Regions from separate parts of the Homo sapiens genome. Here region 1 is linked to region 2. The links come from fine-mapping of genetic effects on gene expression. A gene starts in region 2. The other region holds a variant in brackets. All regions are shown on one strand. Distances are between the middles of the regions. Region 1 overlaps UBALD2 (UBA like domain containing 2). Region 2 holds the start of RNF157 (ring finger protein 157).

Region 1 (5,113 bases), 29 kb after region 2:
AGGCCCGCCTCCCGGGCTGCTGCTGCTTGGCCTCGGGACTGGTGCCCGGCACTGGTCCCTGGGGGGAAGCGGCGCCAAAGTTGGGGGGAGGGGGAGAGGGCCGGGGGCCTGGCGAGGGGCTCAGGAGCTGGGGGACCCCAGAGCCAGGGGATGGGGAGGGGGAGAGGGTGATGCCCGGACGTCTGGGGCACTGGGAAGCCCGCGCGAAGGGCCCAGGGAGGGCGATGGGGGTGCTTGTGTTTATGGGGACCCCCTCGTGCTGTTGAGTGGTTTCCCCCCTCCCCCTCCACACACACACACACCCAGCGCTACAGGGAACAGGAAAGGCATGAATCCACCCTGGCTCAGGAAGCCGGGCTCTACCCACAAAGATCTGTTCAACCTTCCGAAGCCCAAGGGGACTGGGAAGTTGGAAGGACATACATCCCCCAAGCCAGGAGGACACACAGATTTTGACCCAAGATAAGGCCAGGAATGTGTCTTTAATCTCTGTGTTGAGCTCCACCAGCCCAGCACACAGAGAAGTGGTCCGGGGTCTGGATTTGCTTTCTTTTTCATTCTAGCCCAGGCCCAAGCTTTTGCCCTCCTGGCCATGGGGTACTCTGCTTTCTTGAGGCCCAGGACATCTCTCCTGTACCCTACCCCCCTAGTTACCTATTAGCCCTGCTGGGGGAGGAGGGGCAGGGCTCAGCGATAGGGATCTTAAAACATTGTTCCCCAGGAGAGCTGTTGTGGACTCTAGGTGCATTTTTGGGATTTTTAACACTTGGTGCCCTTGCCTTTGGCTCTCTGTTTTCATCTAGTCACAGAGGACAAGTAGAGGGGTCTGTCTTGACCTTGTTAGCTAGTTTTTCTCAGAATGGCTGATGCTGTATATAAATCAAGCCAAAATGGCATTTGAGTATGATGGGAGCATGGTGCTGGCCACAGGGCTCTTAGAAACCCAAGAGGGTTTCATCTCCAGGGGACACCGTCCCCTGCACTTGACCAGGAGAAATGGCCAGCACCCGCCTATGCTTGAGTCTCGAAGCTTCCTGCCATCTCCTGTCACCGGATCCTTGAGATTTCCTTCCACCAGCTGTGGCCATCCCAAAAAACTCAGAACTTCCAGATACTACAGCCATTCTGAGGGGCTGAGAACAGGGAGGCTCCCCAGGAAGAGCTGGTCTGGCATCCTGTTTAGTTCCTATTGCCCCTCCTCTGCAAATCCCAAGGAGATGCTAAGTCTCTTTTGAAGCTTCCCTCAAGGAAGGCAGCAGGTTTTGTAACACACATAACCAGTGTGTCCATCAGTGCCCAAGTCTGAGTGCCTTAGCAGCACAGTGGAGGACACCATCCCTGCTCTCAAAAAGTTCATGGTTTCTTTTTTTTTTTTTTTTTTTTTCTAATTTTATTTTTGAGAAAGGCCAGGGCAGGGGGAGTCTCTATGTGGCCCAAGCTGGTCTTGAACTCCTGGCCTCAAGCTATCCTTCCGCCTCAGCCTCCCGAAGTGCTGGGATTATAGGTGTGAGCCACTGCACCCAGCTGGCAATTTCTTTTCTTTTTTTTTTTTTTTGAGACAGAGTTTCACTCTTATTGCCTAGGCGGAGTGCAATGGTGTGATCTCGGCTCACCGCAACCTTCACCTCCTGGGTTCAAACGATTCTCCTGCCTCATGGGATTACAGGCACGTGCCACCTGTAATCCCACACCTGGCTAATTTTGTATTTTTAGTAGAGACGGGGTTTCTCCATGTTGATCAGGCTGGTCTCGAACTCCCAACCTCAGGTGGTCCGCCTGCCTCGGCCTCCCAAAGTTCAGGGATTACAGGCGTGAGCCACTGCACCCGGCCTGGCAATTTATTTTGGACAAAGTAAGTCAAAGGAAAAAGATCAAAAAACGAAACACTAGAGACCAGTAACAGCAAAATGGCAAAACCAGAAGTCATGAGTAACTGATAAATGGTTGTCCCGTACATTACTGTAGATTCCCATAGTTGGAAGCTTCCCAGTTGATAAGGAGGGCTTCCCAGTTGGAAGTGGAGAAAGGCACTACAGACTTGAAGTGGGAGGACAAAGGTACAGGGGACAATGGGTTTTCTTGAGAACTGGCCGAGAGGGCATATCTGGTTCAAAACCCTCATTTTACAAAAGCAGAGAGAAGCTCCAGAGAGGTTCAGGAACTTGCCCAAGCTTACACAGGCAGGCCACCACAGGCCTGCCAGCCATCATCCCTGCTGTTCTCTGGCGGCTGTTTGAGGAGACAGGCCTCGCTGGCTGGCGGGGAACTGGGGAAGTCGGTCACGATGCTGTGATGCAATTGGCCTCCACCCCCACCCTTCATTCATTGTTTCCTGCTGCCGAGAAGTCATCCCCAGAGGGTGGGGGGGGGGCAGGGAGTAGTGGAGGGAGGAGGGGAAAGGTCTGGGTGGGGCCAGGCCTCTGCATTGGGTCCTTTGGCCTCCCCCTGAGGACCCCTAGAAAGGCAAGGGTCAGAGCTCCCTTGGTGCCCTGGGTGCTGACATGGTGTGGGGCTCAATGGACAGGGTGTGCTAGTGTCCCCATTCCATGTATGTTACACACCCCCTACACAACCTCCGGTTTCTAGCTGTGAAAGCTCCCTCTGTTTTTTTTTTTTTTTTTTTTGAGACGGAGTTTTGCTCTGCCACC[T/C]AGGCTGGAGTGCAGTGACGTGATCTCAGCTCACTACAACCTCCACCTCCCGGGTTCAAGTGATTCTCCGGCCTCAACCTCCCAAGTAGCTGGGATTATAGACGCCCATCACCACACCCAGCTAATTTTTGTATTTTTTAATAGAGACAGGGTTTCACCATGTTGGTCAGGCTGGTCTCGAACTCCTAACCTCAGGTGATCCACCCGCCTCGGCCTCCCAAAGTGCTGGGATTACAGACGTGAGCCACTGCGCCCTGCCAAAGCTCCCTCTTTCAAGGTGAAGAGCCCTCAAGTCGTTCCCCCAACTCCTGCGCCTGGGGGAGGGGCCAGTGTTGCTAAAATTAGGAGAAATTCAAAGAAGGACTCCTGTGGCTTCCTGGGAAAGGGAGAAAGCAGCTTTGAGGTCCCAGCCAGTTTTGTGTGGTCTTGTTCTCTGTGTTGCCTCTTGCCCATGCTGCTGACGAGGTGCTCCTGGATGGCACTCCAGCCCCTGCCCCCAGGGTAGTGACAGAAGACAGCAGATGGGGGACTGTAGCTACCCCCAGGAAGAGGACTGAGGGGCTGGACAGACTGAGAAACTGCCAGCCTGCAGGCAAGGGCAGGCCAGCTGTGTTTGTGGCCTGAGGCTACAGACACAGGACATTGAAATCCCTGGTTTGTGTCCTCAAGGGGCCCAGATATAAAGGGGCTCTTGACTCTGTGCAGCGTGGCCCAGTAGATGTTAAGAGCTTGGGCCTGCAGACTTGGGAGCTGGGGAGGTCCGTCTTCTCAACTTGCCCTCTGCTGTGGGTGCATTTTCGGGCAAGTGACTTGACTTCTGGGCCTCAGTTTCCTCATTTGTCATAAAGAGAGGATAATTGAAGCCACTAAGTGTCATTGTTAAGGGAGGCAAAGCCTTCAAGGCCTGGTGGCTGTCACCCTTAGTGTGGTGTGAACCCATCCACCAAGGTGGCTTAACTTTTCCAGGGTTGGCACAGGAGGGAGAGCCTCCCCGCTGGCCGCTCTCCCTTGCCTAGCAGCCTGGGAGCATCTGAGGGTGGCTGGTGGGGCAGTCAGCTGGTCTCCCTGCCCAGGGAAGGTGCGGAACAGTGGTGTCCTGGGCTGCCCCCTTGCCCTTTCACTTTAATCTGACACCTTAGCTCCTGGGTGCAATTAACCATTTACTTTGAATGCTCCTCGGGGTGTCATTTCCAGGCCTCATGAAACCCCGTTGGTTTTGATAAGGTTCTTGGGTTTTGTCCTTGTTTTCTGTTTGTATTGCCTCGGGGAGAGGGCACTTTTGTCCTGTGGAAGCTGCTTGTGCGAAAATGAATGAAGCTGAAAAATGGGAGTAAAGGAGCGGCTGGCCTGGGTAAGCCCCATCCAGTGGCTCGGGGACCCCCGAGGCAGCCTCCCCACACCCGTGTTCTCTCCCGCAGATGTGCACTCCCAGCAACACCCCTGCCACGCCGCCCAACTTCCCCGATGCGCTGGCCATGTTCTCCAAGCTCCGCGCCTCCGAGGGCCTGCAGAGCAGCAACAGCCCCATGACAGCCGCAGCCTGCTCCCCACCTGCAAACTTCAGCCCCTTCTGGGCCTCGTCCCCGCCCAGCCACCAGGCGCCCTGGATCCCGCCCTCCTCCCCCACCACCTTCCACCACCTCCACCGCCCACAGCCCACGTGGCCCCCAGGAGCACAGCAGGGGGGCGCCCAGCAGAAAGCCATGGCGGCCATGGACGGCCAGAGATGAGACTGGACGCCGCCGGGCGCTGGGCTGGAGCTGGGGGCAGCCCAGGGTTGTGGGGACACAGGAGGGCCAGGGAGGGGGGAGCCGGGGAGGGCAGGGGGTTTCCCGAAGATCGCACTGGAAGATTTTATAAAAGAATTTTTGTGGGTCGGGGGGACAGTAAACTTCCTGGGCCACGTGGGTCCTTCAGGAGTTTTTCAGGCAAGTTTTTCCTCTGTTTTTAATATATAACTATAATATATATGAATAGATAAATATAACTAATGTGCGTGAGAATGGGCCTGGCACACCTGGGGTGCTCGGGGGTAGGGCTGCCATGCTGCAGAGCTGATGGAGTGATGTTGTGGGCACAAGGCATCTGTCAGCTGCCTCCTTTAACAGCCATGCCTTCTGGAATCTGGAAGAGGACACCACTCCTGCAGTCACTGGGCAGCCACATAGCAGCTGCAGGTCCCAGGAGGGCCTGAGGTCAAAGCTGTGGAAGGCCCTCTTGGTATCAGGGCTCTCTCCCCATGGCCTCTTCCCCACCTCTGATTGCTGGTTGTGGCCCCATAGCTCATCACCCCTGTCTCCTGCTGAATGTGCAGGGCTGATGTGGCACTGAGGAGCTGACTTTGGTCAAAGGCCAGGCTCTGCCCAGCAGGGGACTTGACTGCCCTGGGCGCCCTGCCCCTCCCGCTGCGTGTCCAGGTCCAAAGTGGAGAGCCTGCCTTTGGGTTTAGTTCCCGAATCAGAATC
Region 2 (5,512 bases):
GGCAGTGCAGGTCTAGCCGCTTTCCAGCGAGCCAGATAGTGGTCTCAACTTAACACTCAAACTACAAGGTATGTCATCTGGAGAAAGCTGACTCTGCCACTTGCTTTGTTCCACTGTTAGTACTCAGGATAAGGAGACTTCTCAAAATCAACCCAGGTTGATTCCTCTATAGGGACTTCAATTATGACACGAAATAGCCTTCATTCCATAATCATGGAATGATTGTTTTAAGTCTTGTTTTTTGAGTACAAGTTCAAAACCCAATTCCTTGAGAGGTGGAGGCAGACAGTATAGTAGGAAGAACACTAACTGGCTGAGAGACCCTGGCCATACCAATTCATTTCTCTGGGTCTCCATTTTCTTATCAGTGAAATGAATGGGAGGCCAAGGCGGGAGGATTGCTTGAGACCACGAGTTCAAGACCAGCCTGGGCAACATAGTGAGAGAGTGTCTCTACAAAAAACTTGCCTGGGCGTGGTAGCTCACACCCGTAATCCCAGCACTTTGGGAGGCCGAGGCAGGCGGATCACCTGAGAGGTCAGGAGTTCAAGACTTGCCTGGCCAATATGGTGAAACCCCATCTCCACTAAAAATACAAACAATTAGCCGGGTGTGGTGGCAAACACCTGTAATCCCAGCTACTTGGGAGACTGAGGCGGGAGAATTGCTTGAACCCTAGAGGCAGAGGTTGCAGTAAGCCAATATTGCACCACTTCATTCCAGCCTGGGCGTGACAGAGAGAGACGATGACTCAAAAAAAAAAAAAAAAAATTAAACATTAGCTAGGCATGGTGGTCATGGCCAAACTCTGTCAACGGTTCCTTTCAGGACTAATACTGTAATCCCATAAAGAGCCAGGTCAATTCAAAGATCAGAAGAAAGGCGATGCCTCCGTCTAGAGCATATATGCAAGCTCACATAAGGTTTCAAATACACAAAGGTTTGCTGACAGAGACAGGATGTTCTGATTCTATTTTCTATGTTTTAGCTTCAACAGAAATAATGTGGTCCACTTGCTATAAAGACTTCTCTCATGTATAACTTCTGATTTAACATGAATTACAGTTTTACAGTTAAACTTTTAAAACTGGTAGAGAGGAGAGGATTATTTATTGAGTGTGCTAATTAACAAAAGTTTTGGTTTGGTCTATTGTCTTTTTATTATCATCACCCAAGATTCATACTTGTACAAATATGCTTTGGGGAACAGCCTTCCAGAGGTTTACCTATGTTAAGTCCCACATATGAAAGAGCGGTGAATACTTTCCTGAGGCAGCAAACACTATTGAAAATTCCAAGCTCAGCAAAGTATGCTCCATATTTTGATCAATAAAAGCCATGTGGTTTAAGAAAAACAGAGCCCACAAATACTGCTGCATATTTTTGTCTATTTTAAAAAGTTTTCCTCATGCCGCCCTAAGAATATTTTTGTCTATTAAAAAACAAAATCTATGCCTTGGTTAGCGTTGATTTTATGTAGTCATAATCAGTCAGAGCTTTATTAAAATACTAACGACCCACAGCTTTATCTTAGACCTTTCTAAAACAATTCTTCACCATATTCATCTTTGCAAGGATTCATTCTTTGGTACAAAAGCAGTGAGAAACACAGCTCTGGCAGACACTCTGCAGGGATGCGGGCAGGTTCATCGTCTGGCCCCTGCTTTCACCTGGCAGACACTGGACACACTGCTGAGAAACCAGCTCATCTCAGTATGTCTCTATTCTACCAAAAAGAGACGAGGCTCTGCTCCAATTCTGACACCTCATTCCGAAATCACCAAAATCTCCATCGGGTCCTAAGCAGACAGAATGTCGCAGCCATTCATCCTCAGAAGTCTTGAGAATAAAATTAAAAGTAATTAATTAAAATAAAACTACTTGCAATTAAAAGTAAACACCGGCTAGGTCATGCAATTCATACTGGCCGGTGCTCACATAACTGAACTACCTTGTGATTCTCTGCTTTGCTGTCAAAATCCTCCTCCACCTCCAATGCTGATACCACAATCCAGAGGCTAGAGACATTTAAGTGAAGGGATGATTCTAATAACAAACATACTTCTATACGTTTCCAATACCTCTGCCCTGTCCCAGAGCTGGTCCCACTCCAAAACCCAGGCTTGCCACTACGCTAGCAAAGGGGCAATCCGAGTAACTCTGATACTCAGATTCCCAAACATTTCTGTTACTTTCCACCACCACCACCCCCCCCACCCCCCGGCTTCTGACAGCCTCTGCAAAAGCACCAGCACTGCAAATGCCTGTTTGGCTTCCATCCTTCAGCAGGCAATGGAAGCTTTTCCAGGAGAAACCTAATTCTAACCTTTCCAGAGGCCAGGAGACGGCAGCGCAGGGATAGCACCTGGCGCAAGTGCCTGTTTGGATGCCGAGGTCGCCTCCCTCGCGGCCCTCGGACCCCGCGAGGCAGGTAGGCTTTGGGCCGGGCCGGCCGGGTCCGTGCGGGGCGCCGACCTCGCCTACGACGCCGCAGCCCCGCTCCCCAGGAGCCTCGGTCCCTGCGGGCACGCGTCCCCGTCACGGGGCCGATTACAATGGAGGCCGCTCCCGTCCTCCCGTGGAGGGGCTCGGTGCCCTCGGTGACCCTGCTAGACCCGGCAGGACGCCCCTTGGGCTAATTCGCCCGGGGCGGGGGAGACCTCGGCCTTCTCGAAGACCTCCCGCGCTCGAAGACCGTTTCGGAGCGTCCGCAACCACTGAGTCCCCGAAGACCCGCGGGGCCCCCTCAGGCCGTCCCGACCCAGACCCCTGCCCCTGCCCCTCTCCCTCCTCGCGGCTGCGGCGCCCGCCCGCCCTCACCGGACTTGGGCGGGTAGCGGTACACGGAATTAGACGGGATGTCCACCTCCTCCACGCCCGCGTGCTGCCGGCTCGTCAGGGCCCCCATGGCCGCTGCGGCTGCAGCCCCGGCCCGGCCCCGGTGCCCGCGCCGCCCTCCGCGCTTCACCGCGGCCGCCCGCCCCGCGCCCGGTGCGGGGGCCGACTGCCCGCCGCGGCCGGCTCCGCTGCGGCGCTGCGGCTCTGGCGGCGGGGAGCCCCCGGCGCGCCGCGCACCATCCTCCGCCGGGCACCGCGGCGGCGCCTCTGCCAAGGGGGCTGCGGGTCTGGGCCGGGGGCGCCGCCGCCGCCTCAGGCCGCGTGATGTCAGCGGCCGCTCCGCGCGGGGACCGCGGCGGCCCCAGCCAATGGCGAGGCGGGGCGGGAGCGCCCGCGCCGGAGCAGCCAATGAGCGCGGGACTGCAGCAGGAGCCGGCGGCGCGTGCCTCGCGCGGGGAGCCGCGGCTGGACTCGGCGCGCGTGGACGCGGCCCAGGGCCTCGCGGCGGGGGCGTGGGCGTGGGCGGGGACTCGCGACGGGGACGGGGGCGCGGCCGGGTGCCCGCGGCGGGGCGGGGCGGGACCGGCCGGAGCTGGGACCCCAGGAGACGAGCGCTGCACCCGGCCGGGACGCGTCGCCCCTCCGCGCCTGTTTATCCCGGCTCGGATTACCGCGCAGGGAGCCGCCCCCTCCCGCGGTCCGCGAGGACTGGCCGGGAGCTCGCTCGCCATTGTCCTGGGCGTCCCAAAGCGGGCGGTCCCCGCTCCGCTGCTCCCGCGCCTGGAGGAAGCCTTCCCAACCCCGCCCCTCAGCGTCGGCCGGCGGAGGTCTTCGGAAATCTCATGCAGGGGGGTAGGGAGAGGGGTCCCACGGTGCATTCGCATGTCTCCTGCCCCGTGTTAATGCTGGTGACCGGCTAGGAAGATGCCGCCTCCCTCTCACGTGCGTCTATTCAAAGCGCTCCCAACTCTATACATGCTGTTTAAGGCTCCTTGTAGCCCTAAAGTTAGGAGAACATCGACTGAGGATAAGATCAAGACATCCAGCCTCTGTCTGTATCGTGGAAACGGGACCCCGGAAACTTTGGAAAGGCCTGAGTGCCAAGAGAGTCAACGCAGGCGAAAGCGAACCGGGCCAGGCAGAACCGGGAGCTCCTGTTGATAAAAACACACACAACAGTGGGAAGCTTGGGCCGGCGGAAGACGTCATTCCATTGCTTAATTACAGACATTTGTGTTTTAAACCTTCTATTTTCTTTGTGGGTCTGGTGTTTTTTTTCCTGAGAGAGTGGACTGATCAGCAAACATTTCAACTGCTAGAACATGACTTTCACAACTTTTCAACAGTGTTCGAAGTACAGTTTGGGGTGTCTGGTTCCCTTGATTAGGTTTGTAAAGCTATTTTACGGAGTCTAGGTCTTTCCTGGTTATATTTTGTTTTTGTTTTTCTGTGTTTTGAGACGGAGTCTCCCTCTGTCGCCCAGGCTGGAGTGCAGTGGCGTGATCTCAGCTCACTGCAACCTCCGCCTCCTGGGTTCAAGGGATTCTCCTGCCTCAGCCTCCCGAGTAGCTGAGACTACGGGCATGTGCCACCACACCCGGCTAATTTTTCTACTTTTAGTAGAGATGGGGTTTCACCATGCTGGCCAGACTGGTCTCCAATTCCTGACCTCCGCCCCCCAAAGCGCTGGGATTACAGGCGTGAGCCACCGCGCCCGGCACATTTCGTATTTTTCATTGCCGTCTTTTCAGCAGCAGCCAACAGACCTGATGCTAAGTGCCTTGGTTTCCTCCAGGGTCCTCAGGATGGTGGGAACACATCCCTGTCATTTATATTGGCTGCTGCTAACGAAGGCTTGGGTTACAGGGCAAGTCCCTGCCCCGGCAGCTTCTCCCAAGCACCAGAGCTCTCTGGCAGAGTCCCTGGTCCTAACTACTCCAGGGCTTTCAGTCATCCCTGTGGGAGGGAACTGGTGTCCTCCTCCATACTCCTTTCAGCACACACAGGCCCTACCTTGTAACTGCTGGGTAAAGGTAAAATGCAAATAAGAATCTAGAACCACCTCAAAACACAAGGCCTTCGACACATCACAGAGTAAAATGTTGCCTTATGCTCCTCGGCTCTGTTCAGAAGCCTTGGTTCTTCCTGCCCTCGGCATTTTGTAAACGGGACATCCCTTCCCTTTGTGGGTTTATCCATGTCTGAGAGTTTCTTCTGCTTAGCCAGGGCCAGGCAGGGATGTGGCTTAGTCAAGCAGCCCAGTCCTGTTGCTTATGGGGTGTCTCTTCTGGTCCCACCTTGGCCTGACCCTGGGAAGCCAGCTTCTCCATCTTGAATAATACTCCCCAAGCCTAGAAGTTGGTTCCTCCTCCCACGAAGGAGTCATGAGTCCAATGCTTAGAATAGTAAAGAAAAACAAGGCATAGCACAATAAAATTAGTGGATATTTATGGAACACTCTATGTGCCAGGCTGTTTTAAACACTTCACACGTATTAAAGCATTCAACCCTCCCAACAACCCTATCAAATACATGCTATTTACACCCCGATTTTACAGTCGAAGAGAATGAGGCACAGAAAGAGCACTAGACTTTGAGTTGGACAAATCAAACCCCTAAGCAGCTATGTAACTTTGACTTAAGCCCTTAGAAACGGTCTCCGTTTCCTCCTCTG

What was found. PIP is the estimated chance that this variant, and not a neighbour inherited with it, causes the effect. A credible set is the group of variants that fine-mapping cannot tell apart.
Region 1: its variant is the best candidate, but not a certain one, in a credible set for the expression of RNF157 in lung (TOPMed, PIP 0.55).

What each region holds. Positions count from the first base shown.
Region 1 is chr17:76,266,128-76,271,240 of GRCh38, forward strand. It overlaps UBALD2 (UBA like domain containing 2), which reads left to right. Exons shown (of 3, transcript NM_182565.4): 3 at 4,067-5,113. The coding sequence ends at 4,378. Among named protein-coding and RNA genes, the nearest start is that of UBALD2, 3.3 kb to the left of the region's middle. RefSeq lists enhancers at 1-33, 2,004-2,233, 3,934-4,123, 5,004-5,113. The variant T/C (reference allele first, on the strand shown) is at 2,649.
Region 2 is chr17:76,237,333-76,242,844 of GRCh38, forward strand. It overlaps RNF157 (ring finger protein 157), which reads right to left and starts at 3,161. Exons shown (of 19, transcript NM_052916.3): 1 at 2,821-3,161. The coding sequence starts at 2,908. LOC105371896 (a long non-coding RNA gene) reads right to left here. Exons shown (of 6, transcript XR_007065913.1): 6 at 3,530-5,512. RefSeq lists an enhancer at 2,129-2,801 and silencers at 3,106-3,245, 3,266-3,335.